Regions from separate parts of the Homo sapiens genome. Here all the other regions are linked to region 1. The links come from fine-mapping of genetic effects on gene expression. A gene starts in region 1. Each other region holds a variant in brackets. All regions are shown on one strand. Distances are between the middles of the regions. Region 1 holds the start of CLDN10 (claudin 10). Region 2 overlaps CLDN10-AS1 (CLDN10 antisense RNA 1). Region 3 holds the start of CLDN10-AS1 (CLDN10 antisense RNA 1).

What was found. PIP is the estimated chance that this variant, and not a neighbour inherited with it, causes the effect.
Region 2: its variant is fine-mapped to the expression of CLDN10 in whole blood (TOPMed, PIP above 0.99).
Region 3: its variant is fine-mapped to the expression of CLDN10 in whole blood (TOPMed, PIP 0.97).

What each region holds. Positions count from the first base shown.
Region 1 is chr13:95,546,754-95,557,444 of GRCh38, forward strand. It overlaps CLDN10 (claudin 10), which reads left to right and starts at 5,967. Exons shown (of 5, transcript NM_006984.5): 1 at 5,967-6,220. The coding sequence starts at 6,001.
Region 2 is chr13:95,475,482-95,486,172 of GRCh38, forward strand. CLDN10-AS1 (CLDN10 antisense RNA 1) reads right to left here. Exons shown (of 4, transcript NR_046533.1): 4 at 3,963-4,481. It also overlaps a transcript of CLDN10 not described here. Among named protein-coding and RNA genes, the nearest start is that of CLDN10-AS1, 53 kb to the right of the region's middle. RefSeq lists enhancers at 3,127-3,486, 4,825-4,904. The variant ACTTC/A (reference allele first, on the strand shown) is at 4,849.
Region 3 is chr13:95,525,821-95,536,511 of GRCh38, forward strand. CLDN10-AS1 (CLDN10 antisense RNA 1) reads right to left here and starts at 8,090. Exons shown (of 4, transcript NR_046533.1): 1 at 7,878-8,090; 2 at 2,672-2,767. It also overlaps a transcript of CLDN10 not described here. RefSeq lists an enhancer at 9,475-9,769. The variant C/T (reference allele first, on the strand shown) is at 4,686.

The DNA.
Region 1 (10,691 bases):
CACCTAGTCATTGAGAAAACTGAGGGCTATGGAAATCATTCACCCTGTCCTCAGTGTCCTCTGCTCAGCTTCTCGTCCCAGTGCTGTCTCCCCTTGATTTCCCACTTCTTCTCTTCTTTATCTTTATTTCTTGCCCCTTGCTTTTCTCTTTGCAGTTTCTGTTCCCCTTACTCTCTCTGCCTTATCATTGGTCACTTCTTTCATTTATTTTTACTTTTTTAGAGACAGGCAGGCTGGTCTTGAACTCCTAGCTCATGCTCCCAAAGAGCTGGGACTACAGGCGGCTGGCTAACTTTTTTTTTTTTTTTTTTTAAGAGATGGGGACTCTCCCTATGTTACTCAGGCTGGTCTGGAACTCCTAGGCTCAAGTGATCTTGCTGCCTCAGCCTCTGGAGGGGCTGGGAGAGATTACAGGCACCCAGCTGTTCACCCTTTTAAATTTAACTGTCCTCCAGTTTTATTTCTCACTTTCCTTTGCAAGCGCCTCACTCCCAACCACTTTTGCTCCCCGGGACTATCCTCTGCTCTGACTTCCTGGTTTCCCTCCCTCTGCCCTCACTCTGGGCACCAGCCCCTTCCATGTTGGCATTCGACTCCACACTTTCTGCTTTCCTACTTTGAGATTTGCAATACACTTCAGCCTTATTCACTTACTGCTGTTAGCCTAACCGATTAATACCATTTTTATGAAAAAATGTAATTGTATCTCTTTAAAGAGACACAAGGAAATGAGAGGCATGAATGAACTGAATAATATTCATTATTTACTAAGCATCCACTACATTCCTGTCCTTCATATACATTGTCTCTATTCTTCACAACGCCTTTGAAAGAAGCTGTCATTTAGTCCCACGTTATACTTGAAGAAGTGATGCTGAGTGAGATTAGGTGACCTGTCCAAGGTCATTCAGAGGTAGAATTTTATCTCACATCTTTCTGATTACATCATCTACCCTCTGTCCGCTATATCTCCCTGACTCTTAAGTGAATGAAAGTACCATGCCTTATCACATTTCTCCTAAACAGAAGGAATAAGTGACAATAAGTCTACATGTAGAGATTTTAGATTTTCTCCATGCACTGCCTCTCACATACACATCTATACAGACGCCACCTTTAAATTTAACAAAGGAGGGAGGCAGAAAGTGGGAATAAAACAGTAAAGACACCAAAGGAAAACTGCTACTCTCCTCTCCTTGATGTTATCTGTGAATGACTAAGTTCATTAGGAATCCTAGACTCAGGGGTTTTTGGAGTTGAAAGTGGTCTCGGAAGATATCCAGAATAACTCCTCTGTTTTACAAATGAGGGAGCTGTAACTCAGAGACATAAAATCACTTGCCCAAAACATATAAATTAACATACTGCCCCGACCTGGGTGGGAGGTTATATTGATATTCATCAAGTGCTTATGGACAAACAAAATGTACCCAACCTGTCTACAAGCCCTGGAATGTTCTAGCATCACAGAGTGAGAGTAATTCCAGGCTCGAAGGGTATTCCTGCTGGGGCCCAAACCTTACCCCTCCCCTTCAGGGGCTCAAGAGGAGTCTACTAAGATAATTTAGAATTGGGAATGAGTGTGTTTCAAATGAATGCATGAAAAACAAATCCACAAGGTATATGGCACTGACTTGTAATAGGCCCATAGAAATATTCTGATGGAGTACAACTTCACAGGTTGCCAAATGACAGAATAAGGCAACTGTTTTTATAGTTATAATTTGCAAAAAAAATTATAGATATATATTTATATATGAATGGTGATGCAATGGTGAGAATAACTGTTCATTCTGTAACTATTCCTATCACTCTGTAGCTTTCATGCTAAGTAGATTACAAATATCATTGGATTTGCATAAGCATTAAGATAAATGAAATGTTAGGGAAAATGGAAGGAAAAAGAACACAGATATGCTCTTTTAATATCTTGGTACCGGCATTAATGTCTTCTTTAATGTGATGTAACAATACTTGGCTCCTGGGCAGTTGTTTTTTTTAGTTAATACCGTATCATCAGGAATTCAGTTTCTTCCCACCTGATTAGCAGCACGCCACCTCACTGGAATCTAGGAAGGAGCTAATGTATACTGAAACCAAATCTGATGCTTAGAAAATCCTTGAGCTATTGAAAGGCACACCTGCGTTGCTTGGTAGGTGTACTGAATCTCAAGTAAGGAATTTCTGCAAATCTCCTGTTTAGTTGGCTAAACTGGTTTTCACTCCTATTGAACAACCCCAGGGTGGGGGGGATCCTCTATTTCTCTTTAATAACCATAATAAGCCAAAGAAATAATTTTCAATGCTAATTCCAGTGACTTAGACCTCAAAAGTAGAAAGGCTCAGAATATGTTTGAGGGCATTGTATGTCTTCGGGTCAAATTTATAGATCAGTTAGTAGTTTTCATATTGGAAAAGATCTATAGCTTTTTGTAAAGACTAAACTATTGTTAACTAAGATGTTACTTTGAATAATTTAGAGGAGGCAACCTTTTTTGATGTATTCACTTTTATATTTAAATTAAGAATAGTCTCTTATGAAATTTCAGTGAACTGAATCCTAAAGAAAATAAGGAAGCATTTATCAGTCGAAAGTACTCTGTAAATCGGCTTGCAGATTAACTGCAAAGGTTATTTGGGAACTGTATAATCTTAAAGCAAAACAAGACATTTATCCATTACTTCTTTTCAAAAATCTCTATTTGGTCCATTTTTATTTTCTGGACATTCTTTTTTTAGATTATATGCTACTCCATAATATCTTTAGAATTCTCCTGACAAAACTAGCTTGAGAAGCATAAGATATAAGACATTCTAAAATAAAAATGTTTGATTCATTACATAATATTATCTAGGTATTAAAGAAAGTTAACATTTTTCATTCTTTGGTCAGGAACTCATGGCCTCCAACATACAGCTTTCCACAGTAACTATGTAGTACATCCTAGGGAAGATAAAGAAAAGAGTTTAGGGTTGTCCAACCTCATAGAAAGGAGAAAGGAAAATTAACCAAGTCCACAGGCATGACGACCCTAGTCTGTTTTAGCTGCCAAAGGAACTAATAATGCTGCCATTTAAGTTTTAATTTATGGATTGTTTGTGGTGTTTCCCATCCCTTTTAAGTTGAAATTGTGTGTTGCAATCTCTACAGTAATAGAATATTTCTTTTTTCAAAGTATTCAACAATGAGTTTAATATTCTTTCTTCCTGTGATGCATACCACCATCCGTTATGCTAAATTAACTGTTTATACACACATACACAGAGCTCAACTGGTCAGAGCTGTGGTTCTCAGCCTGAGTCCACATTAGAAGTTTTGGAAATACTGCTACCAAGGCCACCCCCAGAGATTCTGGCTTCACTGGTGTGGCGATGCGGCAGAGAGAAGAGTGTTCCAAGCAGGAATTCAGAATTTGTTTCTTCCGGATGCTATGTTGCAACGGTAATCTGGGCTTATGGATTTTTGAAGTATAATGGGTAGAGCTACATTATGTGTTAAATAAACTTTGCAGACTGGTTTAAAACACCAAACCATTCTTCAAAGTTCTTTCTTTAAAACAAACAATGTGCCTTTGGATCCAAACAGTGGACTTCATAGCAACTAGGTGATAAATTAGGAAGTGCTTGAGTCTTAAAGGTCACAGCACTACACTTGTTTTGTGGCAAAAGTAAGTCAGGGTTTTGTCTAGTAAAAACAAAGAAATAATCAATTTAGTGAGTATCTACCATAGGCGAGCCACGGTAAACAAAGGGACTATCGAACAAGGCCAGGAAATAAAGTATTAAATTTGTGTAATTTGTAATTTTAGAAAAATCAGTAAGAAATGTTATGGTTAGTGGGTTTTGTGTTTTTCAAATAGTAATTGGATCAGAAATAGGCAGATTATTCAGGAAGGAATATGGCATAGAAATAATAGTGGAAATATGCTGGAGGGCAAAAAAACAGATGATAAAACACTTTAAAAAGGCAAGCCATACAAAAGAATAGAGGATGCTTTGTAGTCATTGCTCAAAGGTGACTGATTTGCATAGCAAGGAGAATGAGAAGGAAGAGGTTAGGAAGATACTTTTTTTTTTTTTTTTTTTTTTTTTTGTATTTTTAGTAGAGACGGGATTTCACCGTGTTAGCCAGGATAGTCTCGATCTCCTGACTTCATGATCCGCCCGCCTCGGCCTCCCAAAGTGCTGGGATTACAGGTGTGAGCCACTGCGCCCAGCCAGGGAGATACTTCTTAAACTCAGTTTTTAAGTTTAGTTTACCAGTGAACCTAACATGATACATCAGGACAAGCTGGGGTTCAGAGCAGAACAGTAGGGTAACCATGTCTGCATTGTCACCCTTGTACCCATTCACGAAAGCCATGGGACCATTAAGCACAGAGAAGCCCACTACCTGCCAGCCGCTGCACGGCTGCAACAAGAGTAGGACTTACTTCGTGTTCTCAGAGCACAGATTACAACATTCGGGTAGACATTGAAGAGAGACAGATTTGGGGCTCAATAGGAAGAAAAGCTTTTTTAAAGGGCTGTCAAAACAACATGAAGAAAAACAGAATAGATACGTTGCCATGCACTGAACTGCTGGTCCTGAAGGGTGGAGCATGGGCTAAACATTATCTCTAGAAATAGACAGGAACATTGTTTTGAGTGTGGAGCGTGTCCTGCTGGTCTACAGTGATTCTTCCAATCTAAGTTTTGATGATTCTATGTCCAGCTTCCTCTCTTCTCCAGTCACCTTGTCGCCTCTAATTTCACTGGGCACCCATTTGGTTAAAAAAAAAAAGTGACAAAGGGAAATTAAGAAATTCTTCACATTGAACCAGAGTGTTTCTGCCTAAAGATAGTGACACAGAGGGTTAGCACGAGATTTATCACAGCAGACTGATTGATAGGTTTTAGACCTTTCCTTACTTTTGGCAACAAGTGAAACCTGGAAGCTCATAACAAAACTGCAAGAACCTTTAAGTGGACAAATAATAACCCGTGTCCTTGTTCTCTCATTTATGCCCAGATTTGTGGCCTCAGGAGCCAGAAGTACACCTTGATCTTTATGTTTACCTTGAGACAGCAATGAAGGGATGAAGGAATGAATGAGTTTATATTTCAATTAGGCGTGAGAGATGGAGGTGGTTTAAAAAAAAATAAAAGACAAGATAGCAGTTTTGACTGGGATAACAGCATCCTTTCATAGAATAGCCTCTAGACCTGGAAGCTGGAAGGGACCTACAGGGAAAATGTGTTGAACAAATGCCCTCTGCGTAGTGCATTAGTATGAGTACACCAGCAAGATCAAGATCGTCAGGATGCCCCATCTGCTGCTATCTTGACTTTAGGCCTGTGCCACGCACCGTTTTGCCATGACTTTCCGCATAGCACCAGGCCAAAAAGAACTGCAGAGTTTTGAGGGCAAGGCCGGTTTCCAGCCCAGAATCTGCAATGATCCCTCCTTGACAAGTCAAACAGAGTCACCCAAACAAGCGTGGCACGCAAACCTTTAGAGTTCAGCAAACCGAGGGCTGAGTTACCAAACCGTGTCCTTTCAGGGCATGCAAAAGGCTTTTCCTGCTCTGCTTCTACAAGGTAGTCAGGAAGCCAAGCTATTTGCCTTGGGTAGGGCTGGGTGGGGGTGGTGAGGTGGGGGCGCAGCAGGTTGTCCACACCCGGTTGCCAGTCTGAACCTGAGCCGCTCCAACAAGCGAGCCCTTCTCCGCGGCCCTTTGGCTCAGGGGAGCGCAGGCCGGCCTTCCTCCCGCACGCGGGCGCGGGCCAGCTGCAGATGGAGAACCCGGGGGGCGACCGCGAGCCCTCTGAGGCCCCTCAAGGGACAGGGCATGGGTGTGAGGGGTCGCGTGCGCCCCCTGGCGCCGGGTCCGCTGGGCGGGGTGGTGGGCGGGGACGGTGGGCGGAGGCGGAGGCGGGAGGCGGAGCCCCGGGGTTGGGAGTGCGGGGGTCGCGGCGCAGAGTGGGAGCCGGAGAGCGAGCGCGGCTGCAGCCGGCGGCATGGCTAGCACGGCTTCGGAGATCATCGCCTTCATGGTCTCCATCTCAGGCTGGGTACTGGTGTCCTCCACGCTGCCCACCGACTACTGGAAGGTGTCTACCATCGACGGCACGGTCATCACAACCGCCACCTATTGGGCCAACCTGTGGAAGGCGTGCGTTACCGACTCCACGGGCGTCTCCAACTGCAAGGACTTCCCCTCCATGCTGGCGCTGGACGGTCTGCATCCCCGCGGCCCCCGCCCTCAGCCCTCCTTCCTTGATGGCCAGCCCGCTAGGCGCCCTCTCGCCCCCAATACCCCCAGCGGGACCCCTAGACTGGACTCCTCTGAGGCCCGACCCGTCTCTCCCAACAGGGCCTTAGGGAGCCAGGGACGCTCCTGGTGCCCGCCCTCTCCTGATGGCTGTCTCGCGGGGCGCCTGTTCGAGCCTGGGACCCCGGGAGGGGGGACACGCAGACAGGCCCGGGTTGGTGACTCCCAGGCGTCGGGGGATGGGGAAGCTTTGCGGTCCTGAGAGTCAAGGAAGCGGCTGCCCTCCCCCACCCCCCATATCTTGGGGACCGCTGGGACCCAGAGTTCATGCTGCAGGGGCTTGTCTCCTCCACCTCCCTCCCCTACGTTCCCCGAAGGCTGGGTTCTGATAAAAATGGTGTCATTGCAAGCCAAATCCGTTTGTCCTGACCTCCCTTGAGCCATTTCGTTGGTTCTTTTAAAAGTAGGCGGGGGTGGGGGTTGAGAGGTTGGAAGCGGGAAAACATATTGCAGAATTTGTTGTTGTTATTGTTTCCCTTTAAAGAGCTTCTACAAACTTGTCTGCCTAGGCAACACTACAAACACTTCCTCCGAGTTTTAGGAAAATAATAGCCCTTGCGGTGCCGCGATGAGTCCGCAGAGGGTAGGGAATCTTGGGCCGTGAGAGCGTGGCGCCGGGAGCTGACCAGTTCTGCATCCGAGTCCCCGGTGCCTGCTGCTGTCCTGGGTTGTTCCTTTGTGGAGGTTCACCTGCGTTGCTCTGGTTAGTCAGGCCTTATGCTGGTAGCAGCTGGTGGATATTCACACAGAACTCTGGCTCTGTTGAGTTTCAAGACAACAGCCGATGTCAGCCCGGTCCCATTGATTGCTCAAGTTCTAGGCCCGTTGCTTCCAGGATTTTACAGCAAACGAATCCTGGCAGAAACTTAAGAGGAGTTATTTACATTACATATTTCTAGATTTGAGGTGTTTTTTTCTTTTATTACCGCACTTGCAGGTTTTGTTTACATAGCTGGGTAAATGAAAGAAAATAGTTGATTCCTCTAAGATGGGGTTTGCCACGAAGAGCAAACTGTTGCTCAACGTGGTATTTGATGGAACCTCCGTATAAGGAATACGCATCTAGTTTTAGAAGGGTGGCGCCCGGGTCCGTGTCCTGTTCGGTAAAATAAGCAGCCGGAACAGTGTTTATTCCCCAGCATTACCGTTGAATTTCCTGTGGTTTGTAGAGCACGCATCCAGGTAGATGAACAGGCATTCTCTTGTTCCTGTGATTTATAGTCAGCAATGTGTTACTGTCCTCTGAACACTCTTCTGTTGTAACTCTATTGTTCTCTGAGATAGTGTGCCAGATAGGTACGCTTCCTTCTGTAGGACAGTTGGGGGACAAGGGAGAGAAGGAAATGAATGCTCTATGAATATTATTAAGTGCAGAATAATAAAGTTTTCTCCTACATGTCTGCAGTGAGAGTGGAGGTGGTACCATACCTGTTTGGGGGCAGATCGGGCCGGGAGTGAAGAGGAAGTAGGAATAGTTGTCCTGGTTAGCTGGGAGGAGAACAGAGAGGAGTGACATTTTTATGCCATCCAGCTTGCAAAATGGCCTTCCTGTGTGCTCATGTGACTAAAAAATGACTTTTAAAAACATAAATGGCATGACACTACCTACTGTTGTACAACACTTTAAAATCAATGTATTTTTCCAAGTCAGTACTTAATAGAAGTGACTTGACTCTGTGTAACTGCTGCATGGTATATTCATTAGACTGCATAAAATGGCTTAGTTAACCATAGATCCATTGTGGACATTGGACCTTTTCCAGCTTTTCTTTGTTGGTGGTGCTTTACTGAAAATCTTATATTCACCTCTTTGTATGTGTGTGTATTTCTGTAGACTCCATTCCACTGAGAAATGGTATCGTAAGAGCAGTAGAATACACGTGCATTTTAATATTCAGTTCATACTGTCAAATTACTTTCCACTGACAGTGTATGAGAATACCTGCTTCTCCACATTCTCACCACTCTGTGTTAATCCAGTTTTTTTTTTTTTTTTTTTTGAGACGGAGTTTTGCTCTTGTTGCCTAGGCTGGAGTGCAGTGGCACAATCTCAGCCGACTGCAACCTCCGCCTCCCAGGTACAAGTGATTCTCCTGTCTCAGCCTCCCAAGTAGCTGGGATTACAGGCATGTGCCACCATGCCCGGCTAATTTTTTTTGCATTTAGTAGAGACAGGGTTTCACCATGTTAGGCTGATCGCGAACTCCTGAACTCAGGTCATCCACCCTCCTCGGCCTCCCAAAGTGCCGGGATTACAGGTGTGCGCCACCGCGCCCAGCCATCTTATCATTTTAGTTGGCATTTCCCTTATTGCCGTGGTCAAAATCACTGGTTATAAAAATGGTCAAAACTCACTGACCGTTTTTTTTTCTCTTTTGTGAATTGGCATCCATATCTTAGGCCCATGGTTCTGTTGTTTCTTTGTGGTTTCGATGATTTGTCAGTCCTTGATTTGTTATGTAGGTTGCAATCTCACACCATTGTTCATCTTTTAAATTTATGATGCCTTTTCTCACACAGGACTTTGAAATTTGTAATAGAATCATATTTATCAGCCTGTTTTTTTGATGACTTTCCTTCTGTGGCTTAAGATGGCATTTCTTACCGCAAAACAAACTTACTTTTCTGTATCTCTCAGAATAACATCTTGGAGGGTTAAATCATGCAACTGTGTTTTCCTGTGGAGGGGAGTTGATTCCCCCACCTGCAAGTGGAAGCTTCCAGGGTAGGGGCCCTCTGTTTGTCCTCTACCTTGCATTCCCAGGTCAGCCACATCTGGTGGGTGCTGGTCCTGACATTGCCTTTGGAGAAAGTGGCCATGGTGGCCTGAGTGGAACAGCCCTCCCCTTAAACCCAGGTATGAGCTCTAGATTGGGAAGAGAATCCAGGAAGGGAGAGAGAAGGCTCGTGACTCTTGCCTATCTTGTGTTAGGTAGAAGAACTCTTGGAGTCAAACGACGAGGTCATTATTCTGAATTTCTTTTCTTTTTTTTTTTGAGACAAAGTTTCACTCTGTCCCCCAGGACAGAGTGCCATGGCATGATCTCTGCTCACTGCAACTTCCACCTCCCGGGTTCAAGCAATTCTCCTGCCTCAGCCTCCTGAGTAGCTGGGATTACAGGCACCCACTGCCACACCTGGCTGATTTTTGTATTTTTAGTAGAGACAGGGTTTCACCATGTTGGCCAGGCTGGTCTTGAACTCCTGACCTCAAGTGATCTGCCCGCCTCTGCCTCTCAAAGTGCTGGGATTACAGGCATGAGCCATGCGCCCAGCCCTAAATTTCTTATATAAAGAAATCTCTGATTCCCCTCCCCTAGGGGTATCATTGCCACTTGTTTTCCTTATAAGAAAAATGAGGCCTAGCAAAGCTATATGTCTAGATTTAACGTTATGCCATATTAAGAACCCAGCTCTAATTTCTGCTTAGAATCCATTGTAGTATTATAATATGACGGGATGCTTTGATGACTTTCTTACTGCTCAGCAGACATCCATATTATTCATCCTGTGAAGGAGGTGCTGCCATCCCTGTTTTACAGATGAGAGAACTGAGCCTCAAAGAGATTAGGTCCTATAACCAAGTACATACCTTGGGTAAATAGAAGCACCAGAGGTGAAACTCAGAGTTCCTGCCCTCCCCATACCACTGTTCTCTCAAAGGATTTGCAGAAGTACACAAAGCTACCAGGAAAAGAAAAGCACATTCTTTTTTCCCCCCTAAATCCATCAACTAGCACAGGTGCTATTAGCGAATTGTCTCCACCAAGTGGATGTTTTCGTTTTTTGCTGATTTGCAATTGAAAATAAAGTACACATAATTTGGAAAACACTTAACTTTTAAGGAACACCTTGAAGCTTTCCTCCAACAGAGTTCATTAATTTAAAGTCACTGTATTTTACTATTTGAAAATTTCACAGCTGAATGAGCTTGTGATTTCTGTTTATTGTTAACCCATACTCCTTTCAAAGTACCACTTGAACTTCAGCTGAGTATGATTTTCAGCCAGCTTGTTTTTAGTGTATGCCATCTATTTTTGCTAGTGGGAATGCTTGCCATTTCTCCCAGGAGAACTAACTATAAATTATACTTCAGAGAACTTCTAAATAAATATGTTCATGCCTCAGCACCTTAATGTGTTAATTAGCTATTAACAGTGTCAGTAAATTAGACCTGTCAAAAATAATGGCCTCCTTGACTAGGTTTTTACTAACACTTCTCCTGGTGGTGTTACTTGTAAGTTTTGCCCTCAGGAACTGTTAGAAAGCAAGGCTGTAGAGGTCTGCTTTGCAAAAGATGAACTCTGAAAGGGTTTGTTGGAATCATCTTGGCTCCAATCTGTGGGTGTTGTAAGGACTGGTAGCCTTAGAACACTG
Region 2 (10,691 bases), 71 kb before region 1:
TTTTGCCAGCCCACCTCAGCTGTGCTGACTGAGCACTGGCCACCAGTGGGCTTCTCTGCTGCTCCCCAAGGGAGGGAAGTGGCCAGCAGGGTTTGAAAGAGTTTCAGTGCTGTTTGCCCCAATGGCCTCTGGGCCCCTGGTGAGGGTGACTGGCTTGGAGCTCCAGGAAGGTGGCAAGGGCTCCATTCCCACCTCATCCTCCAGCTGCCTTTCTCTGGGTGGCGTCTCAGTGAAGCCAGCCTGGGGTCTATCCTCATGTGCTCTCATGATCCCAAGCCCACCTGCATGGGTCGAGGGTCCCTGCATCTCTCTCTCTCTCTCTGTCTCTCTCTGTCCCTCTCTCTCCCTCTTTCCCTCTCTCTCTCTCTCTCCCTCACCCTCTCTCCCTGTCGGGACTTGAGCACCATGGCTCTGCTGTGATGAGCACCATGGCTCTGCTGTGATGTGACTTATGATTGATGCTGCCCCTGAGCGTGCTGGGTGGTCTTCTATGCTTGTCACAAATCTCTGCCATCTAATTCCACCCCCATCGCCCAGATTGCTTCCTTCCGTGTGCCACTCCCCTTCTGGGCACTTGTGGTGATAGGACATATGAGGGGAGGAGCTGGTTTGGGAGGCGCAAAGGCATGATAAACTCGATTTTGAATGTGTCAAATATGACTTACAGGCAGGTTGACAGGATAGAGATGGATTGTCGGCATTTGGTTAGACGTGTGTGGAGCTCAAGAGGGGAGCCTGAGCTGGTGTCTTAGTCTGTTCAGGCTGCTATAACAAAATGCCTTAGATCGGGTAACTCATAGACAACAGAAATGTATTTCCCACGGTTCTGGAGGGTGGGAAGTAAGTCCAAGGTCAAGGTGCTGATGGATTTGGTGTCCGGTGAGGGCTGCTTTCTGATTCACAGGTGAGTCTTCTCTCTGTGTCCTCACGTGGTGGCAGAAGTGAGGCAGCTCTCCGGAGCCTTCTGTATAAGGGCACTAATCCCATTAATGGGGGCTCCACCCTCAAGATCTAATCACCTCCCGAAGGCCCCACCTCCCAACGCCATCACCTTGGGCATTTGGATTTCAACGTGTGAATTTTGGAGGGACACAGATATTCAGACCATAGCAGCTGTGGGTGAAGATTCAAAGACTCAGAAACAGATGGGACCTCCCAGGCAGTGTGTGAAGGGCAAGGCTGGAACCCTGAACACCAGTGACAAGTAGGAGATGGAGAGAGAAAGGAGGATGCTACCATGTGGATGAAAAGGGGCTTTAACACATATTGCTCAGGTGGCCTCACTATGAAATAACAGGACAGATGAAGTCACTGAGTCTCGGGGGCACCTTCACAATCTCTCACAGCTGTTAGTGGCAGAGCCAGGTCTCCAAGTTCAGAATTTTTCTCCCTACATTTGTTCACTTATTCATTCAACAGTCACTGATTGTGCTCTTTTCTGTGTGTGTACAGGGTCTTGTGTTCATACCATGAGCAGCATAGCAGGGACCCAAGCAAGACTGGGAGGAGAGGCGGGATGCAGACAAGTTGGGAACCAGCCACGCCTCTCCTCCTAGCAGGGGAGTTGCTCTAATAGGTTTTAATTTTATTCAGCTTTGGTGAGGCCAATAGATCAGATGATGACTCTCACTGAAGAGAGAGTTTCTTACTCTCAGATCTAAGAGAAGTGGGCACGCCACGCCATGCAGGGACACCCGGGGCAGCACGAGGGCTGGTCAAGAGGCAGAGGGAGAAGAGAACGTGGCCAGAGCCCTTATTATGGTTTCCACAGGAAAGAGTGGGCAAGGCAGGGTTAGCTAGCTCAGGACTGGCTAGTTTAAATCATTTCAGCAGGCTCTGGGGCATACAGGCTGTTCCTATTTGTCAGATACCTGGTCCTGGGTGATTAGGGCAGGGGGATAGTGGCCTGGAGTGTGAGAGCCAGATAAGGGAATTGGTTGGGATGCGAGCTCTGGGTTGGTTTTCATTTGAAAAGCATATCACCCGGAGGACTCCTTCCAGGGGGAGGGGGACAGTGAGGGAGACATATTATTGGGTTGCACAGAGCAAGGTGTGTCCTGCAGATGCACGCGGGGCAGATGTTAAAGCATCAGGTTTACAGAAAGGAGAAACATGGTTAATACAGAAGCAGAAAAGGAATGCAAAACAGAGAACAACTGCAAAGGTGCACATGCGGAAACACAGGTTGATGTCCTGCCAACCCTACTGTGGATGGTCTGTGGACCAGCAGCACCTGGGACTTAGAGAGGCAGCGTCTCAACCCCTCACCCCAGACTGAACGAATCTGAATCTGCAACACCCTCAGGTAACCCATATGTATCTTAAGCCATGATAAGTACTGGCATCAGCTGCAGACAGGCCCGTGGACAGATGGAGGAGGAGGAGGAAAACGTGTGGTTCGTTAGGGAGGCTTCTTGGAGGAGTCCTCTAACAATGAAAGCCAGCTTTCATGTGAAAAGAAATGAGATCTTTTGCCTAAAACAGTGGTTCTCAAAATTGGCTGCAAATTGGAATCACCTGTTGTGTTTTAAAAAGCTCTGGAGGCCAGGCACAGTGGCTCATGCCTATAATTCCAGCACTTTGGGAGGCTGAGGCTGGCAGATCACTTGAGTCAGAAGTTCAAGACCAGCCTGGCCAACATGGCAAAACACCATATCAACTAAAATAGAAAAAAAAAATAGCTGGACATGGTGGTGCATGCCTGTAGTCCCAGCTACTTGGGAGGCTGAGGCATGAGAATCGCTTGAGCCCAGGGAGCTGAGGTTGCAGTGAGCCAAGATCGCACCACTGCACTCCAGCCTGGACAACAGAGTGAGACTCTGTCTCAAAAATAAATAAGCAAGTAAATAAATAAATATAAAAAGCACTGATCCCTGCTTCCAAACACTGGAGATTCAGATTTAATTGAGATAAGGCCAGGATGTAGAGCGTTTACAGAACTCCCCAGGTGATTTAAACATACAGCCATGTTAGAGAACCACTGGCCTTTGCCATACGGAAGATATAATGTGCTGTACCAGGACCAGAGAACAGAGAAACAGAGGAATCAGATGGTTTGAGAGCAAGACCAGGAGTGTGCAGGTCTGCCCGGTGGGTGGGGTGAACAGGGAGGGTGCGCCTAGGATCCTTCTCCCCTCCCATCCCCATTTGGCTTCCTGGGCCACGTTCCTCAGCGCTTCGTTGGTTCTTACCCGGATGCTTGTATTCTGCTTCCCCCTAGTGGTGACTTGCAGTATGGCACAGCTGTCGCTGGCGGTTTCATTAAGGTTCCGCGTTCATCACTAACTTGTGACAGTGAGTTACAGCCTGTGGTCTCGACAGGTGGGATCATCCTAAGAATCATGTCCTGTGAGCATCTTCGCCATGTGACTTCAGGAGTTGCTCCCTCACAAGGAGCCTCAGGGAGTTATAGGTCACTGGCCAAGCACTGCCCTGGCACAGGGCTGCAACTGCAGCCTAAGTGGCTTCCTGTGCGTAAGGTTTAAGGAACTTTCATTTTATTAGCCAGTGGTTAAGTGCCTGTGAGAGCAATCATCAGCAGGTGCAGTGGTAGAAGATAACAAGCTTCCTAATAAATAGTGGCCACCGGCCGGGTGCAGTGGCTCATGCCTGTAATCCCAGCACTTTGGGAGGCCGAGGCAGGCAGATCACGAGGTCAGGAGTTCAAGAACAGCCTGGTCAACATGGTGAAACCGTATCTCTACTAAAAATATAAAAATTAGCCGGGTGTGGTGGCGGGTGCCTGTAATCCCAACTACTTGGGAGGCTGAGGCAGGGAAAATTGCTTGAACCTGGGAGGCAGAGGTTGCAGTGACCTGAGATCACACCACTGCACTCCAGTCTGGGTGACAGAGCAAGACTCCATCTCGGGGGGAAAAAAAGTGGCCACCACTTAAATCTTTGTAGCAAGAATGGGTTTTACTTAATTATCACATTTCATTCCAATGACAAGCCTGAAGGTATTAGGATTGTCAAATATTTTTATTGCAAATATGCATTACTAAGGCTATTTTTTAAAAAATACTTCGCTATATAAAGTCATATTCTTCTCTGAGATGGACATTTAGCAAAAATAAAGTCACAGACTTAACATTATAGTCATGAATAAATGTTTTAAAATTATGAGGGAGAAAGAACATTAACTAGAGAAAATGTTGCTACATCACTTTCAAAATAAGCACATATTTTAAACAGACATGGTTTGCAGAAGAGGATTCTCATCTTACAGATAAGAAAACAAACCTGGAGACCTTAAGGAACTTGATCAAGGTCACATAGCCAGTGACAGATGCAGGGTTTGAACCCACATTGGCTGGACAGCACTGTCTGTATGTACAGCTCCTCCCACATCCCCTGCAAGAGTCCAGGGGTTCTCACCTGCTCAAGGGTTTGCAACAGAGACTTCACTTGAATCCCTGATTGAGTCTCTGGTTCCTCCAAGCTCCCCTAGTTCCTCTTTGTATTAGTCCATCTTCACACTGCTAATAAAGACATACCCAAGACTGGGGAATTTATAAAGGAAGGAGGTTTAATGGACTCACAGTTCCACATGGCTAGGGAGGCCTCACAATCATGGTGGAAGGTGAAGGAGGAACGTCACATCCTACATGGTGGCAGGGAAGAGAAAACTTGTGCGGGGGAGCTCCTTCTTATAGAACCATCAGATCTTGTGAGACTCACGATCACAAAAACAGCATGGGAATGACCCGCCCCCATGATTCAATTACCTCCCACCGGGTCCCTCCCACGACACATGGGAATTGTAGGAGCTATAATTCAAAATGAGATTTGAGTGGGGTCACAGCCAAACCATATCTCTCTTCTTTCCAGTTTCACATTGACTCAGAC[ACTTC/A]CTTCGGTAGAGCAGTCTCTGAAGGCCCTGTATTAGAGGAGAATGCCCTTGCCCAATCCTGGCAGAAAACCTCTCTCCACAGCTCACACCCAGAGCTGGGCTCAGGCCAGATGCGGAAGAGAGATAATGAGAGAAATAGGAAGCGTCTGAAGCTGGCAGCCATTGTGGTCCCCTGAGCTGGCTGGTTCCTTTTCTTCTCCCCTGAAGCTCCTGCCCACTGGGAGCCAGCTCCTGTCCACCCTACCCCAGTTTCAAGAGTTCCTAAAACTCTGGTGTGAACCAGAACCACTGGGAAACTTGTTAGAATGCAGATCCCTTGGCTCCACCCTCAAAAATTCTGATTCAGGATAATCAAAAACGGGACCCAGGAATTTGCATTTTAAGCAAACAACCCACGTGAATTCTGCTGCATGGGGTCCTCAGAACACACGTTGAGAAATATTCAATAGACACGCTATTCACATTCAAGAGTACCAATGAAGGCCCATAAGCTATGTTGAAATACTTAGAAGTTATCTATCAAGTGAATAAACTGTCAAATATATATACATAACTACATGGCAGGCTAGAATTCCTGGGCTCTATAGCCCAAGCCAGAAGGTAATGGGACAGCAAGAGCTAACCCCCAGCTGCCATCCTTCCCCTTTGTCTTCCCACTTTATGCCATGAGGAACTTGCTTCTTGAGCAAGAGGACACACCATCCATAAATTCAAGCACAGGCACTCTCCGTCCACCCTGTAACAGCTGCATCTTGACCACCTATTGGGCTAGAATGGACCCCAGAGAGGAAGCTGGCATTGACCCTGGAGGCAGAAAATTCCCAGGCACTCAGAGCATGGCCTAGATGGGGAAGAGTTTCCAGGAGGACGCATGCCCTTGACCTTGCAGACTCATAATTTTAAAACATTTATGACTAACTATAATGTTAAATCTGTGACTCAGTGCGGACCTTGCCTGCACTGAGGGGAAGGGCAGCAGAGGATGGCCGGGGCAGAACCCTCTAAGCTGACATTTCTCCAACATTCATGGGAATAGAAATTTCCTGGGATCTGAATCAGTAGGTCTAGGGCAGGGACCAAGATTCTGCGTTTCTAACAGCCTCCCAGGTAAAGCTGGTGAGGCTGGTCTTCAGACCACAGAATGAAGCAGCAAAGCTGTAAAGCAGGGGTCAGTACCAGGTAGTAAACTTTTAGTCTCTGAGGGCCATGTGGTTTCTGTGGCAATTATTCAACTCTGCTGTTGGGCATGAGAACAGCCACAGATGATATTTAAGAGAATGAGCATGGCTGTGTTCCAGGAAAACTTCATTTGTGAACACTGAAATTTGAATTTCAGATAATCTTCCTATGTTGCAAAATATTCTTCTTTTGGGTTCTTTCCATTATTTAAAAATGTAAAAACTCGATCAGGCACAGTAGCTCACGCCTGTAATCCCAGCATTTTGGGAAGCCGAAGTGAGTGGATCACCTGAGATCAGGAGTTGGAGACCAGCCTGAGCAACATGGCAAAACCCCATCTCTACTAAAAATACAAAATTAGCTGGGTGTGGTGGTGCATGTCTGTAATCCCAGTAACTTGGGAGGCTGAGGCAGGAGGATCACTTGAACCCAGGAGGCGGAGGTTGCAATGAGCAAAGATCGCACCACTACACTCCAGCCTGGGCGACAGAGTGAGACTCTGACTCAAAAAAGTAAAAACTCAATCATAACGTAACTTAATTGTACATGTAAAAATAAAAGAGTATAATTGGATTGTTTGTAACACTAAGGATAAATGCTTGAGGGGATGGATACCCCATGTTACATGATGTGCTTATTTCACATCGCATGCCTGTATCAAAACGTCCCATGTACCCCATAAATATATACACCTACTATGTACCCACAACAATTACAAATTTAAAAATTTACAAAAGATTTTTAAAATGTAAAAAACATTTTTTACATAGGCTATACAGAAACAGGTCTGGATGGGGAGGTTAGATTTGGCCCAAAGTCTGTAGTTTGTTGACCCCTTCTCTAATATATATGGCCCAAGTCAGGCGCCGTGCACAGCTGGGTCTAAGAGCTGTGCTGATCTACAAAGCCCACATGAAGCTGCTGTGGCAGAAAGGGTCTAGAGCCTCACTGAGTCATGTCTTTTGGGGATAGATGGGTCTTCTAGGTGCCCATCAAATCACACCTTCTCGGGCTGCCTTCAGTGCACACCTATGAGACCAATCTTGCTGATCCAGGGCAGGAAGTCTAGTCCAGATCCACCCTGCTGTGTTACCCAGGAGCTCAGATTCAGTCTCAGAACCATCTGGATTGTTTTATTCTCATGATGTACTTAATCCTGATTGAAGTATAAATGAATAAACTGGCTGGGCGCGGTGGCTCACGCCTGTAATCCCAGCACTTTGGGAGGCTGAGGTGGGTGGATCACCTGAGGTCAGGAGTTTGAGACCACCCTGGCCAACATGGTGAAACCCCCATCTCTACTAAAAATACAAAAAATTAGCTTGGCATGGTGGCGTGTGCCTGTAATCCCAGCTACTCCGGAGGCTAAGACAGGAGAATCTCTTGAACCCAGGAGGCAGAGGTTGCAATGAGCCAAGATCGTGCCACTGTACTCCAGCCTGGGCAACAAGAGCGAAACTCCATTTCAAAAATAAATAAATACATAAATAAGCCCATTAAACATCACGAATTTAATGTGAGGCCAACATTCTTACTGGTGAGAAATGATTCTCCATCGTTCTTGGGAGAAAGTGACGCTGCCCGTCCTCAGGCCTGGGAGCTGCTGAGGAGGGGAGAGTGAGGAGGTTGGTTTATGTAAAAGGTGTGGCACTGCCACTCTGTGCAGATTCCTGGAGGATTCACCTGACTACTTATTGATTTTTCATTGAACAGCTTTCTCCTCGTTCAGACTGTGGGCTCTCTGAGAAGATGGGGAAACATTATTTGGGAGATTTACCCTTAGGGTGAAAATTATCTAAGCTTATTTCTCAATTTCCCTCTCCTCCCCTCATTTCTCATCTCTAATTTTTTTTCTTTCTTTTTTATTAAAATTTTTTGTAGAGACATGGTCTCACTATGTTGCCCAGGCTGGTCTTCAACTACTGAGCTCAAGCAATCCTCCTGCTTTGGCCTCCCAAAGTGCTAGGATTATAGGCATGACCCACTGTGCCCGGCCTCTTAATTTTTTAAGCATCACAGGTTGTATCCCCAGAAACCAGACTCTAAAGAGGCATTTCATGAAGGCGTGCCTGTGGGAGGGACCACACCTGTGGAAGGTAGGGGACAGAAGCAGGAGTGGGCAGAGCAGTGACGTTGAGCTACAACCCAAGGCTGACAGTCTCAGCAAACCTCACCAAGAGCTCTGGAGTTAGGTGGACTTTTAGAAACATGCCAAGCATGGCTGAGCTGGCCAAGCCCTTATGCTCCACCATCCATTGGTCACTCGATATGAGCTTCCCCAGGCATGAGTGTGCTATGGTCTGAATATTTGTGTCCCTCCAAAACTCGTATGTTAAAATGCTAACCCCCAAGGTGATGGTATTGGGATGTGGGGCCTTTGGGAGGTGATTAGGTCACAAGGATGGAGCCCTCGGGATGGGATTAGTGCCCTTATAGAAGACACCCCAGAGAGGTCCCTCCCTTATCCCTTCCACCACATGAGGATACAGTAAGAAGACATTCTCTATCAGTTAGGAAGCCAACCCTCACCAGGCATCAAATTTGCTGGTGCCTTGACTTTGGCCTTCCCAGCCTCTAGAATTGTGAGAAATACATTTCTGTTGTTTTTGAACTACTTAGTCTCTGGTAGGATAGCAGCCCAAAAGGACAAAGATAGGGCATGTCCTTGGGTGAGGCAGCTCTCTGCAGCTCAGTCACTTTCTGAGAGGGCTAAGAGCTACAGGCTGACTGCAGCAGCACTTCTAGCAGCTGGGGCCTGATGTCCTTCACTGTCCTTTCTGGGCAGCATATCACAGTATCCACTGCACACCACTCGGCTATCATTCTGTTCAGATACTTCTTGACTGGTCTTTCTACTTCTAATTTGTTCCATGTAGAATCTATCCTAAACACTACTTCCCTAATCTTTCTTAAAGGAAAATATTGGTAAAATATTTCATAGTCTGTCATTATGAATAATTTTATATGTCATTCCCCTGAAAAGAGGTGTTACAAGGTCAAGTTTTTTCAGTTATGCAGGAAATGTAAGTGTGTAAAGAAGCAGGATGAGGCCAGGTGTGGTGGCTCACGCCTGTAATCCCAGCACATTGGGAGGCCAAGGTGGGCAGATCACTTGAGGTCAGGAGTTCAAGACCAGCCTGGCCAACATGGCGAAACCCCGTCTCTACTAAAAATACAAAAAAAAAAAAAAAAAACCCACAAAAATTAGCCAGGTGTGGTGGCAAGCACCTGTAGTTCCAGCTACTCGGGAGGCTGAGGCACAAGAATCGCTTGGACCCAGGAGGTGGAGGTTGGAATGAGCCAAGATTGTGCCACTGCACTCCAGCCTGGGTAACAAAGTGAGACCCTGTCTCAAAAAAAAAAAAAAAAAAAAAAAAAAAAAAGAAGCAGAGTGCAATACAACATGGTATGATGGGGTCTTATTTAGTTTGATTTAGTTTGCCTCCACTTCACCCCACTGGTGAGGGAGGGATTCCGCCCTAGAGTTGAGAGGATGGTTGAATGTACAACATCCAAGCCTAGACAGATGAGATGGGCAGCAGGTAATTAGTCACATATGCTCATGGCCCAGGGAAGGACGACACTGCCCCACAGAGAGCCACGTGGGGGTTGCAGCTGGGAACAGAGTGAACCACCAGGAAGCTGTGGGAGGCAGGCTTTGTAGTAACAAGAGGGCGAGGTGCCCCTGGTTCCTGTAAGAGGATGTGTTTGGTTTGCTTGGATAATTCTACAGGCTGACGGGGACCTGAAGCCTAGCACTGCGCCTGGTCCCTTTGATAAGGAGGGTTGCTTGGCTAGAGGACTTTATCCACCAGGAGCAGAGTGGGAGGAGAACTTGCAGTTAATCCATTTGAGCCTCTGTACCCTGATTTTACCAGCCTCCATGGTCAAGGCAGCACTTAGTTTTGAATCTTAATTTCAGGCCTTACACCACAGGTCTATGAGTCATTGGAGCTGAATTTCCTATCCAAAGGTATTCAAAATTATTTTCAAATCTGATCTGGCCAAACAGAATTCTACCATTCATCACTGCTGGTTTTCAAGCCCGGGCCCACTCCAGATTCCCTAGAATGGCACATCAGGGCATTCCTAATCAGGCCTAATCCATATCTCCTTTCTCATCATCCCTGCTAAATTTCAGCCTGAGTTTACACACATTCACTGGACAACTTGTGTTTTTGGCATACTCAGCTGTATGTTTTTCCTCACTCTATTTCCTCCAGATAAGGACTAGAAATTCTAGCCGTGCTTTGAGGCCAACTCAAATGTAACCTCCTCTGGGGTGACTTTCCTGGGCATTGCAGGATAAGTGCCTGGATGGCCTTGATAACCCAGCTCTTCCCCCATTTTTCACTTGTAGTTCTCAGAATAATGCTAGAATGTGCTGGAAACAACATTCTGAGATAAGGAAAAGCTGTCCAGAATATGCCAGATTCTGTTTCTGTTCCTCTTAGGACAAGATGTCCTCCAATGCTGTGGTCCAGTGATCCCAGTTTCCCCCCAGGGTATAAAACCCAGAGTGGAGTGCTTTCAGAGTGCCTCAGCTACAGTGCATTGTGGGGCATGTGCAGACAAGACTCCATCCATTCTGAGTAGCTTCCTGAGCCTTGCAGAATCAGCTCGCAATGGATGCTAGGCTTCTGTTGTGCCTTGCTGCCTA
Region 3 (10,691 bases), 21 kb before region 1:
TCTAGGGCTGTTATTGACTGCAGAATAACCTTATTAAAATTGACTAAACAACTTGCATCTAGCTTTGTGCGCCTGTACTTTCCCATGCAGTGAGGATTTCTCCTCACTGATTCTGGGTCTATAAATCCTCTTATTTGGATGTTGGATCTCCTGGATCGTTCTTCTATATTCCTTGTCTTTCTCTTCTACTTTCTAAGTCTCAATGTTTTCGCACTTCTCTCTGGAAGATATTGTTAACTTTGTCTTCTAAACCTTCCATTGTGTTTTTATCTCAACTATGGTTTTTTTAATTTCCGAGAGAGTGTTTGTGTGCATTCTCCGAATGTTCTTTAGCTGTGCTTATCTCATGGATGCAATATTTTCTTTTATTTCTGTGAAAATATTAATTATAATTGTTAGATTTTTTTTCTCCCCATCTAACGTTTTCTCCATGTTAGTTGTTACAAGTTACTTTGTTTGTTCATTTGACTTCCCTGTTGGAAATTTCTTCAACTGTCTGCCAGTCAGTTCTTCAGCATGGGAATTTAAGAATTCATTAGAAGCTCTGAGACTGTAGACGGACTTGTCCACTGAGAAGCTCACAGTGGACATTTGTAATGAGCCATTTTACTAGGGAAACTTCAATGTCAGTATCTTTAAGTTGTTCCTTATGAAACTGTCCATTCTCTAGAGATGGATCTCACAGTCAGTCTCTTGTATACGGAGTTTAGGCCTGGCTGCCAATGTTTTGTGTTTTGAGAACCAAATGTAGAAAAATGGCAAGAAGGGACCAGCCTGGACAACATGGTGAAACTCCGTCTCTATTAAAAATACAAAAATTAGACAGGCATGATGGTGGGCACCTGGAATCACAGCTACTCGGGAGGCTGAGGCAGGAGAATCACTTGAACCGGGAGGTGGAGGTTGCAGTGAACCAATGTTGCGTCACTGCACTCCAGCCTGGGCAATAAGAGTGAAATTCCATCTCAAATAAATAAATAAATAAATAAATAAATAAATAAACATGGCGAGAAGGAAAGGAGAGCTGTCTTAGCATTTAGTGTAAAATTTTTAGTTAATCACACTGTTTTAATAATGAAACTCCCTTCTTCATTTGGAACAGGTGTCCCCTAGTTCAACAACCAAAATTTCATCCACCCCAGAGAGTATACTTCCAGCTTTCTGTTCAGGTGAGGAGGGAGGATTTGCCCCCATTGAACAGAGCTGAGTATGAAATATGAGTGTCAAACTTCTAATTGGACTTTCAACAAATCCTCCTGTTTTAGACCCATTTTTGCCACCTTCTTCCAAAGCTTCCAGGGGCCTGCTAATTGTGGCAGTTCTGCGATATAATTTGGGTTGTTTCTTGGTTTTCCTTATTGCCAATTTAGGACCAAACCTCTCAGTTCTGTTAGGCAGCTTACTGTTCATGAATGCTATTTTCAACTTTCATAAAAGGAATGTTATGTTCTTGTTTGCTTCCTCTTTATTCTTGATGGTTTTCAACAATAATTTTTAAGAAATTCATTTACTGTCTTTTTAATAAAATTTCATGAGGAAACAAATACAAATGTGTGTGTCTCCCATCCTTAACCAGAAGTCCACCTTCTTCTCTCTTTAAAATTCTGATATAGAAAAAACAAAAACAGGCCAGGCACAGTGGCTCACGCCTGTAATCCCAGCACTTTGGGAGACTGAGGCGGGTGGATCACCTGAGGTCAGGAGTTCAAGACCAGCCTGGGAAACATGGTGGAACCTCAAGTCTACAAAAAAAAAAAATACAAAAATTAGCTGGGCATGATGGTGGGTGCCTGTAATCCCAGCTACTCAGGAGGCTGAGGCAGGAGAATCACTTGAATCAGGGAGCTGGAGGCTGCAGTGAGCTGAGATTGCACCATTGCACTCCAGCCTAAGCAACAGAGCAAGGCTCAGTCTCGAAAACAACAACAACAAAAATAAATAAATAAACAAAATTAAAAAACTCTGTGGCGAGTGTATATCATCTTATGGTGAAATATTCTATGCATCCAAAGGCAGAGTGTGTCAGCTATAGCCATTCATTCTAACAGGAGTGTGACATTTGTAGGGAAAAGTTTTTTGCTATTCGACTGCTATCATTGAATTGGATGTATGCTGAACCATTGACCACTAGGATTTGTGGCAACCTGGAGATTTCCTGATTCTAGGATCTGTGCTGTGATCTGACAGCATGTTTTCTGGCTACATCAAGTAGTTGTTTCTAGGCTTTGTTCAAATCTTTTTCCTTTCCCTGTGTGACTGGCTGTATCTGTCTCTATAATGCCACCATATACAAGTTGATATGGTTTGGCTGTGTCCTCACCCAATTCTCATCTTGAATTTTGGCTCCCATAATGCCCACGTGTTGTGGGAGGGACACAGTGGGAGATAATTGAATCATAGGGGTGGCTTCCCCTATACTGTTCTTGTGGTAGTGAATAAGTCTCATGAGATTTGATGGTTTTATAAGGGGTTTCCCCTTTCACTTGGTTCTCATTCTCTCTTGCCTGCCTCCATGTATGATGTGCCTTTTGCCTTCCACCATGAATGAGAGGCCTCCCCAGCCATGTGGAACTGAGAATCCATTAAACCTCTTTTTCTTTATAAATTACCCAGTCTCGAGTATGTCTTTATCAGCAGTGTGAAAACGGACTAATGCATAAGTGAATCATACATTTTGGTGTCAAATATTTCTTGCTTTTCCCATATAGTACAGCAAAGAAGGATATCAGCTAGAGGAAGCAAAGAACTGGATGGATGATCCAACCATCTGCCAAAAGATAAATTCAAATAAGGTATCAGCAACAAGTAAGATCAAACAGAAATAAACAAGATGATTCCTTCTCCTGAAAGACTGATAGCCATATTGAGTAAAGCTAAGGAAAGGGAGAATGTCATGTGTGGAGCTCATGGCAGCAGAAAAAAGTACAGACACCACGGCAAAGCCACTGAAGGAGATCTGACTGCATTAATGAGCCATTTTATTAAATGGGTAGTTGGCAAGAAAAAAAGTTTATTCAATAAGTTGGCAACACCAAGTTAAAGAGAGAAGTTAAGTAGGTCATTAAGACACCACAGTCACTAATATTTAGAGCTTGAACATAGTATGAATTGGTTGTCTACAGAGAGTTAGAAAAGGTGCCAAGACACATAACTGAGTGATGGCCAATCAAGGGTGTTTTGTTTCTTTCTGAAACAAAGCTGGGAACAATGTTTTTCTTGTTGTTGTTGTTGTTGTTTTTAATGTAGAACTGGTGGGGTCAGTAAGATATTGCTGCCCATGTCTAGTATTTTTTTTTTAATTTTTGTCTTAATATCATATGGAGGCATGCTGTTACCTATAAATTTACCTATAATTTCTAAATTTAAAAGGAATCCTCAAAATAATCAGAAGAAAATTCAACAGATACTATTGAGATCTCTTTTTGCTCTGTTGATCCATTTATTTCTTCAATCAGTAAGTTAGTGGTGCTTTCTTTTCCTTTGATTGGCAGGTGTTTCATCAGATCTTCTGGGATACTTCTAGTTAGGAGTAAGATTTCTAACTAATTAAAGTGAATAAACACATTTTTTTTCAAAATAATGTACCCTGTTACATAGAAAACAGGGCTTGAAAGGAATTGTTAAGAACCATTCGCCTTATTAATATGTTATTTTTTTGGTGCTGCCAAGGGCATTGGGAACTTCAGTCCTTTGCAGTAGAATTCTTAGCTTCTAGGTGAGCGTGCCTCTAGGCTGGAATAATTTAGTCACCTGGCTTTCCTGTAACTCTTATTATTTTTGGCTTCATGAGGTAGTATTCATACAGAAGTGGTCCTTTTCCATTCCCCAAAAGTCTTTTGTAGGACACTGATAATCTCTTTTCTTTCCCTACTTGTCTACATGAAGTGTGCAAAAATCTCTGGTCATATCCAGGATTTTTATACAAATAAGTAGGTTACAGTTAATATTCCAGTTTCGCTTTTTTTTCCCAAATAATTTAGGGTTTAAGATTGTTATTTCTTGGGTTATCAGGACATAGCTCTCCCTTGAAACTAGCTTATTAGATGTGAACAGTTGGTACTGCTTTTTAATAATTCTGGTGAGGAAAACATTGTAAATTATCCTAGAGTCAAATGTGATATAATTATTATAGAAGGTCACTTTCACTATTTAAAACATTGAGTTGATTATATTTAAATCAAAAAAGATATTAAAGGTGAATAAATTTCACATATTAAAACCTCAAACCACATGCATATAATGCTTTTTAGTGCCCACAAACACCAACCAGAAAGTGTGTGATTAGGTTCACTTTTTCAAGCACCTTTATTTGTTTCCTCTTGATTCACCTAATCACTTTGACAGGGGGGAAATGGGGAGGGGGAGCAGCTTCAAAAAGTTTCCACAGTGGACCATGAGTTATTTAAATCCATCTCACAGAATCCATTTCCCATGCACTGAAAGCCCTGTGACATTTCCAGAACTGCTGTTTACTTTGGGATGTGAGAGATGTTAAAATTCTTTGTGTTTAAACCACAACATTTGTGAGTGGCATGAGACGAAGACTCATGGCAGGTTGTAAGCGGTTGGGCAACCCCTACCGGAAGGAAACAGGCTATTGAATTACTGGACTCAAGAGCAGGCAAATCCATCTGGGGTGGCAAGCCCAGGAAAGGCTGCCAAGAAGGACTTAGAACCACTCTTCG[C/T]CCTTCCCTGCCTGAGTATACTCATCGAAAGGACCCTGTGTGTCTATCTTCATTAGGGCAAAGAGATCAAATCCCAAATTTCATAAAGGAGAATGTTAATGCTATGGTTACAAGCTTTTACACAAAGAAAAATACCTGCTACATAGACACTCAAGGAAAACATCTTGTGTTTATCAACTACCTTGTGCTTATATTTTTTATTGTTTTATCCATATGTTTTCCTAAAGTATGGCCCTGAAATTCACTGATCTTTACAATACCTTATTATAATAGGAACAGTCAAAGAATTATTTTCTTTCTTTACAAATAAAAAATAAAACATGAAACTCACTTACCTAAGTTCATATACTAAGATCCTTCCTAGAAACACCTCTAGCCCTTCAACCATATTAGACTCCAATGAGAAGAAACTGATCATCTTTCCTTTTTTTTTTTTTTTGAGATGGAGTCTCACTCTGTCACCCAGGCTGAGTGCAGCGGCACAATCTTGGCTCACTCAGCCTCCCGGGTTCAAGCGATTCTCCTGCCTCAGTCTCCCGAGTAGCTGGGACTACAGGCGTGTGCCACCACACCCGGCTTATTTTTTGTATTTTTAGTAAAGACGGGGTTTCACCATGTTAGCCAGGATGGTCTCGATCTCATGACCTCATGATCTGCCCGCCTCAGCCTCCCATAGTGCTGGGATTACCAGGCGTGAGCCACCACACCTGGATGATCATCTTTCTTAAATAACAAAATATGGTAGACTTTAAATTAGCATATAATGGCAGTAACATAATTTTTTATTTTGCATTTTCAAGGCCAACTTAATTTTCAAGTAAAGATTCCAATGCATTTGATTAGCAATATGAAAGTTATATCCCTGAAAGAGAAACAAATTGATTCATATTTTAAAGAAGCCATAGGGCATCAATTTTTCTAGTAGGCGGTCAAAAGTCATTATATCCTCATTATTAAACTCTTATCCAGATTACAGGATGTAAAATTTAAATTAAAAGAAGGAAACTTTTGGATGTTGATTGCTCAGTATTACCTTTTTTTTTGAGACAGGGTCTCACTCTGTCACCCAGACTGAAGTGCAGTGGTGCAATCTTGGCTCATTGCAACCTCCACCTCCTGGGTTCAAGCGATTCTTCTACCTCCCCTCTCAAGTAACTGAGACTACAGGCGCCCACCACCACGCCTGGCTAATTTTTTTTTTTTTTTTTGATATTTTTAGTGGAGACGGGGTTTCACTATGTTGGCCAGGCTGCTCTCGAACTCCTGATCTCCACCCATCTCAGCCTCCCAAAGTGCTGGGATTACAGGCATAAGCCACCGCTCCCGGCTAGTATTTACATTTTTAAAAAGATAAAGGAATAGATCTGCGCTTACACATGTGTTTGATTTTCCACAAAGGCACCAAAACAGTCCAACAGGAATTTAAACAAATGGTGCTAAAGTAGCCAGAGAGCCATATGGAAAAATGAATCTAACCTCTGATTCATACCAAACAAACAATAATTAGAGATGGATCATAGGCCACATAAAAAACAGCTAAAAGCAAAGGGTTTAAAATGAAAATATAGGAGAATATCATCATGACTTGGGGGTAGGCAAAGGTTTCATAAGATAGGTCATAAAAAAGCAATAACCATAAGAGAAAAAAATTTATATACATTAGACATCATCAACATTTAAAACTTCTGCTCATCAAAAGATGCCTTTGAGAAAATAGGCAAGCCATACACTGAGAGAACATATTCACTAAGAATGTATCTGATAACAGCCTGGTATAGAAACAGCTCTTACAAAAACAAAGAAACAACTCAATAGAAAAGGAGCAAAAAATTTGGACAGGCACTTCACAAAAGAAGGTATTTGAATGGGCAATAAGCACATGAAAAAGTGCTCAGCATCATGAAGTTATCAGGGAAATAAAAATTAAAATCACAATAAGATATCATTGAATACCTACAAGAATGGCTAAAACAAGAGACTGATAACATCTAACGTTGGCAAGAATGTAGAGTACCTGCAAGTTTCACACATGGTTAGTGGGAATATAAAATAGTACACTTTGAAAAATGGTGAGGTAATTTCTTATAAAACTAAACATACACTTACCCTCCCACCCAGTAATTCTGATCCTAGATATTTACCCATGATAACATGTTCACAAAAAAACTTGTACAAGAATGTTCATAGCAGCTTTATTTGCCCAAAACTGGGAATAGCTCACATGTTAATCTGCAGAAAAATGGATAAACAAACTGTGATAGCTTCAGATACTGGAACTCAATTCAGCAAAAAAAAAAAAAAAAAAAAAAGAAGACATGAACTGCTTATATGTGCAACAACATAGATGAGTCTTAAAACATACTGAAAGAAGCCTTATACAAAAGAGTACATGCTGTTTGATTGTATCTAGATAAAGTTCTAGAATAGATAAAACTAGTCTACTGTGGAAAACACAAGAAAAACGGGGGGAGTGGGATCGACTGGGAAGGAGTATGAGAGAACTTTCTAGAAAGATAGTGTTTGTTTCATTTACACAGATGTATGCATTTGTCAAAAGTTAGTGAATGTACACTTAAGATTTATAAATTTCATTGTATGTAATTTTTACATCAAAAGAAAAACTAAATATTAATATCTAGCTAGTGATATGCTTGCTGAAGGATTTAGGAGAAATTGTACTGAGGCCTGCAATTTATTTTTAAATATTCCAAAAAAAAAAAAAAGATTGATAGAGGGAGGGAGAGGGGGAAGAAGAGAGACAGAGCGAGAGAGCAAAGCAAATAAAATGTTTATGGTAGAATGTAGGTGTTGGGTATGATATATGGGGTGTTTACTGTAAAATTCAACATTGCTATATATTTTATAAAGTTTTATGAGAAAATGTTGGGGAAAACAAAAGTAGATTTTTAGAAGAAAGAACCAGTTTTCAATAATCTTTAGATATAACACTCCCCTAATACATTTCACAGAATTGTTTTCCAATGGGACTATTTGATAATAAATAACTAATTTGTTCAATCCATTAAAAAATAAATCACGCTGGTATCTTGAGTCTCTTCTAGTAATTGTACAGGTATAAGAAGGTGGAGGGGAAAACCTGTAGGTCAAATAAATTAGGAAGTATTTATTGAGCTTTTACTATCTGCCTACCCGGTGAGATACAGAGACATCCAAGACTTAGTTAGATCTTACCTGCAGGGGCCACACTCTCACTTGGCAGCCATGAAGAATGAAGCAAAGGTCAGGCCTGCGGGCAATGCAGGGTAAGGATAAGGACCCACATGCTCAGCAGTACCTTCAAGGCCCCAACCCTGCTTCTCCCCTCCACTCTGATCTTCTCTCTTTCTCCCACCACAGGTCCCTCTACCCAGACTCTACCCAGAGCTCTGTCTGCCAGGCTCTCCTCCCCGGCACCAGGCTTGAGTATTCCGCCTCACTCACCAAGCCTCAGCCCCCGCCCATTTCCTCAGGGACATGCTCCCTGACCCAGAGCAGAGATCACGTTCTTTGTTATACAGTTTCAGAGTACAGTAGTCCTTTATTAGAGAGCATTTGATTCAGTTTATAATTACATGGTCACTGAGGGATCGTTTGGGTAATGTGTGTCTCCCCTACTAGATTTTCAGCTCCATGAGAAAAAGAATTGTATTTCCTTTTTAATTCTCATTATATCCCCAGCAATTTAGCAGCATCTGCTATGTAGAAGGTTACATATGAAAACACACAGAAAGCATTGGGTGTCTTTTTTTTCCTTCAAATAGGAAAGAAAAAGAAGAAGAAAACATGGTTATAACCATATGAAGCTACTGCCAGGACGATATGTTAATAAAATAAATTTAAGAAAAGATTTGTTAAAATCAAAAGAGGAAAAATATTTGTAGAATTATAAAATCTTATGTGGTAAGGGATATTGTGGGTCATCTGGTCCACCTAAGCTTAACTATACTCCTGTCAAATGTATGAATATCTTTAGTAAATATCTTTTGTTATTTTACATTTTTAAAAATAACTTTTTATATCAAACCGTTAAAAATTCAAAAAAAAATCAATTCTCCATCTTCAGAAACTGATTGTTATATAAAGAATTTAGTATAATGCATGATTCACAGTGATAGTTATAATAACTACTACTAGTAGGAGTATTACCAGGAAACCTCTAAGTTGTAGTGCATCATTTTGATAAGAACATGTGTTTTGGATCATTTAAAAAAAGGGGATTAAATTATAACTCTGCCTCTAAATGGCAATACATCTTTGAGCAATTTTCCTAATATCTCCAAACTTCAGGGTTTTTTTTCTCCTGGCATTCAATAAACGGTAGCCAATCATGGTTATAATATAACAACAACAGTGAGGATGAATAAGAATCTGTGTTTATTCTCAAAGCGCTCACAGCTCAGCAGGGACATGGATACAAACTCCAATTCTGCGCAGTAAATGCAACAATGGAAGCACGCCACCAAGAATGAGAGAGTGACTCTCAGGCCTGGTCTATTGGGGGAGGAAAGAGTTTTTTTAAAAAGTAATTAAAAGGAATTCTCCAGGCTAATTAAGCAAAAAAGGCATCCTGGGTGGAAGAACACTGCCATGCATGCTTGCTATGATCCAGCAGAGTATTCCAAGGTGCAGCATGGCAGGTGATGGGCTGAAGATCCTAGGATACCTTTTGTGTCATGATAAGATACACAGATTTCATTCTGCAAGTAATGAGGAGCCCGTGAAGGGTTTTAAAGGGGTAAAGAAACAATCAGGCTTATCTTTTAGGAAAATCAGCTGGGGAGTCATATTAGAAGGGGTGAGCCCTGGGGCAGGAAGACCAGTCAGGCTAGTGGATGGAAGAGGTGATGAGGGTCTAAACTGGGAAGAGTAGTGTGGGCCTGGAGAGGTGAGAATGACTCATGGCAGTTCAGAAAGAGTGTCAACAAGATTGAGTGATGAGGAGTACAGAGGGAAGAGCGCCATCCAAGATGACTCAGGAACACTCATAACTTGCTTGGCAGACTGAGTGGGTAGACAAACAAATATGGTTCATGGTTCAGTGGAGAAAATACAGAAGGGAGCTGCGGGGGAGGTGGGGGTGAGAGGTTTAGTTGTAGACATAATTGAGGTCTCCATACCTGCGAGCCACCAGGAGAAAGGAGAAGATGTCCCATAGGCACATGGGACATCAGAAGAACTGATTCTGGGTCAGGGAATCCCATTATGGAGCCACCAGTTGGTTCAGGGAAAGACTGTGATGTGAAAAGGGGTAAGTGCCAAGTACAGAATGCTGGAGATACCAGCCCATGAGGAGACATGGAGACGAATCGTGGAACAGGCAGAGAAATCTAGGCAAGAATGGGGCTATGGAAGCCGAAAGAATAAAGTATTTCACAAAGAAGGAACTGAGCAACTATGAAAAAGGTGCAGAGAAAACAAACAAGATAAAGAATGGGGACTGTTCACTAAGTCAGGTAGCACAAAACCACTTGTCACTTTTGCCTATGGTGTTTCAGTGGAAAGGGAAAGGTAGGAAAGATGGCAGTGGATGGAGAAGTAGATGGGTGGTGGACAGAGAGACTGTGATACTGTAATAGACAAGTCTATTGAGATGGTCAGTTAAAGAAGAAAAATGAAGAATATGTTTTAAATGTCTCTCAAGATATCTTTAAATACATTTGTGTATTTTCCTAAATTTGAAAAAAAAAAAAGTCCTTAATATCTGCTTCATCTAAGCAGAAAGATCACCTGAGGTCAGGAGTTCAAGACCAACCTAGTCACATGGTGAAACTCCATCTCTACTAAAAATACAAAAATTAGCTAGCATGGTGACATACACCTGCAATCCCAGCTCCTCTGGAGGCTGAGGCAAGAGAATCGCTTGAACCCAGGAGGTGGAGGTTGCAGTAAGCCGAGATCACGCCACTGCACTCCAGCCCAGGCGACAGAGCAAGACTCTGTCTCAAAAAAAGAAAAAAGAAAAATCATCCAAGGGACAATTTATCCTTAACCATACAAAACTTACAG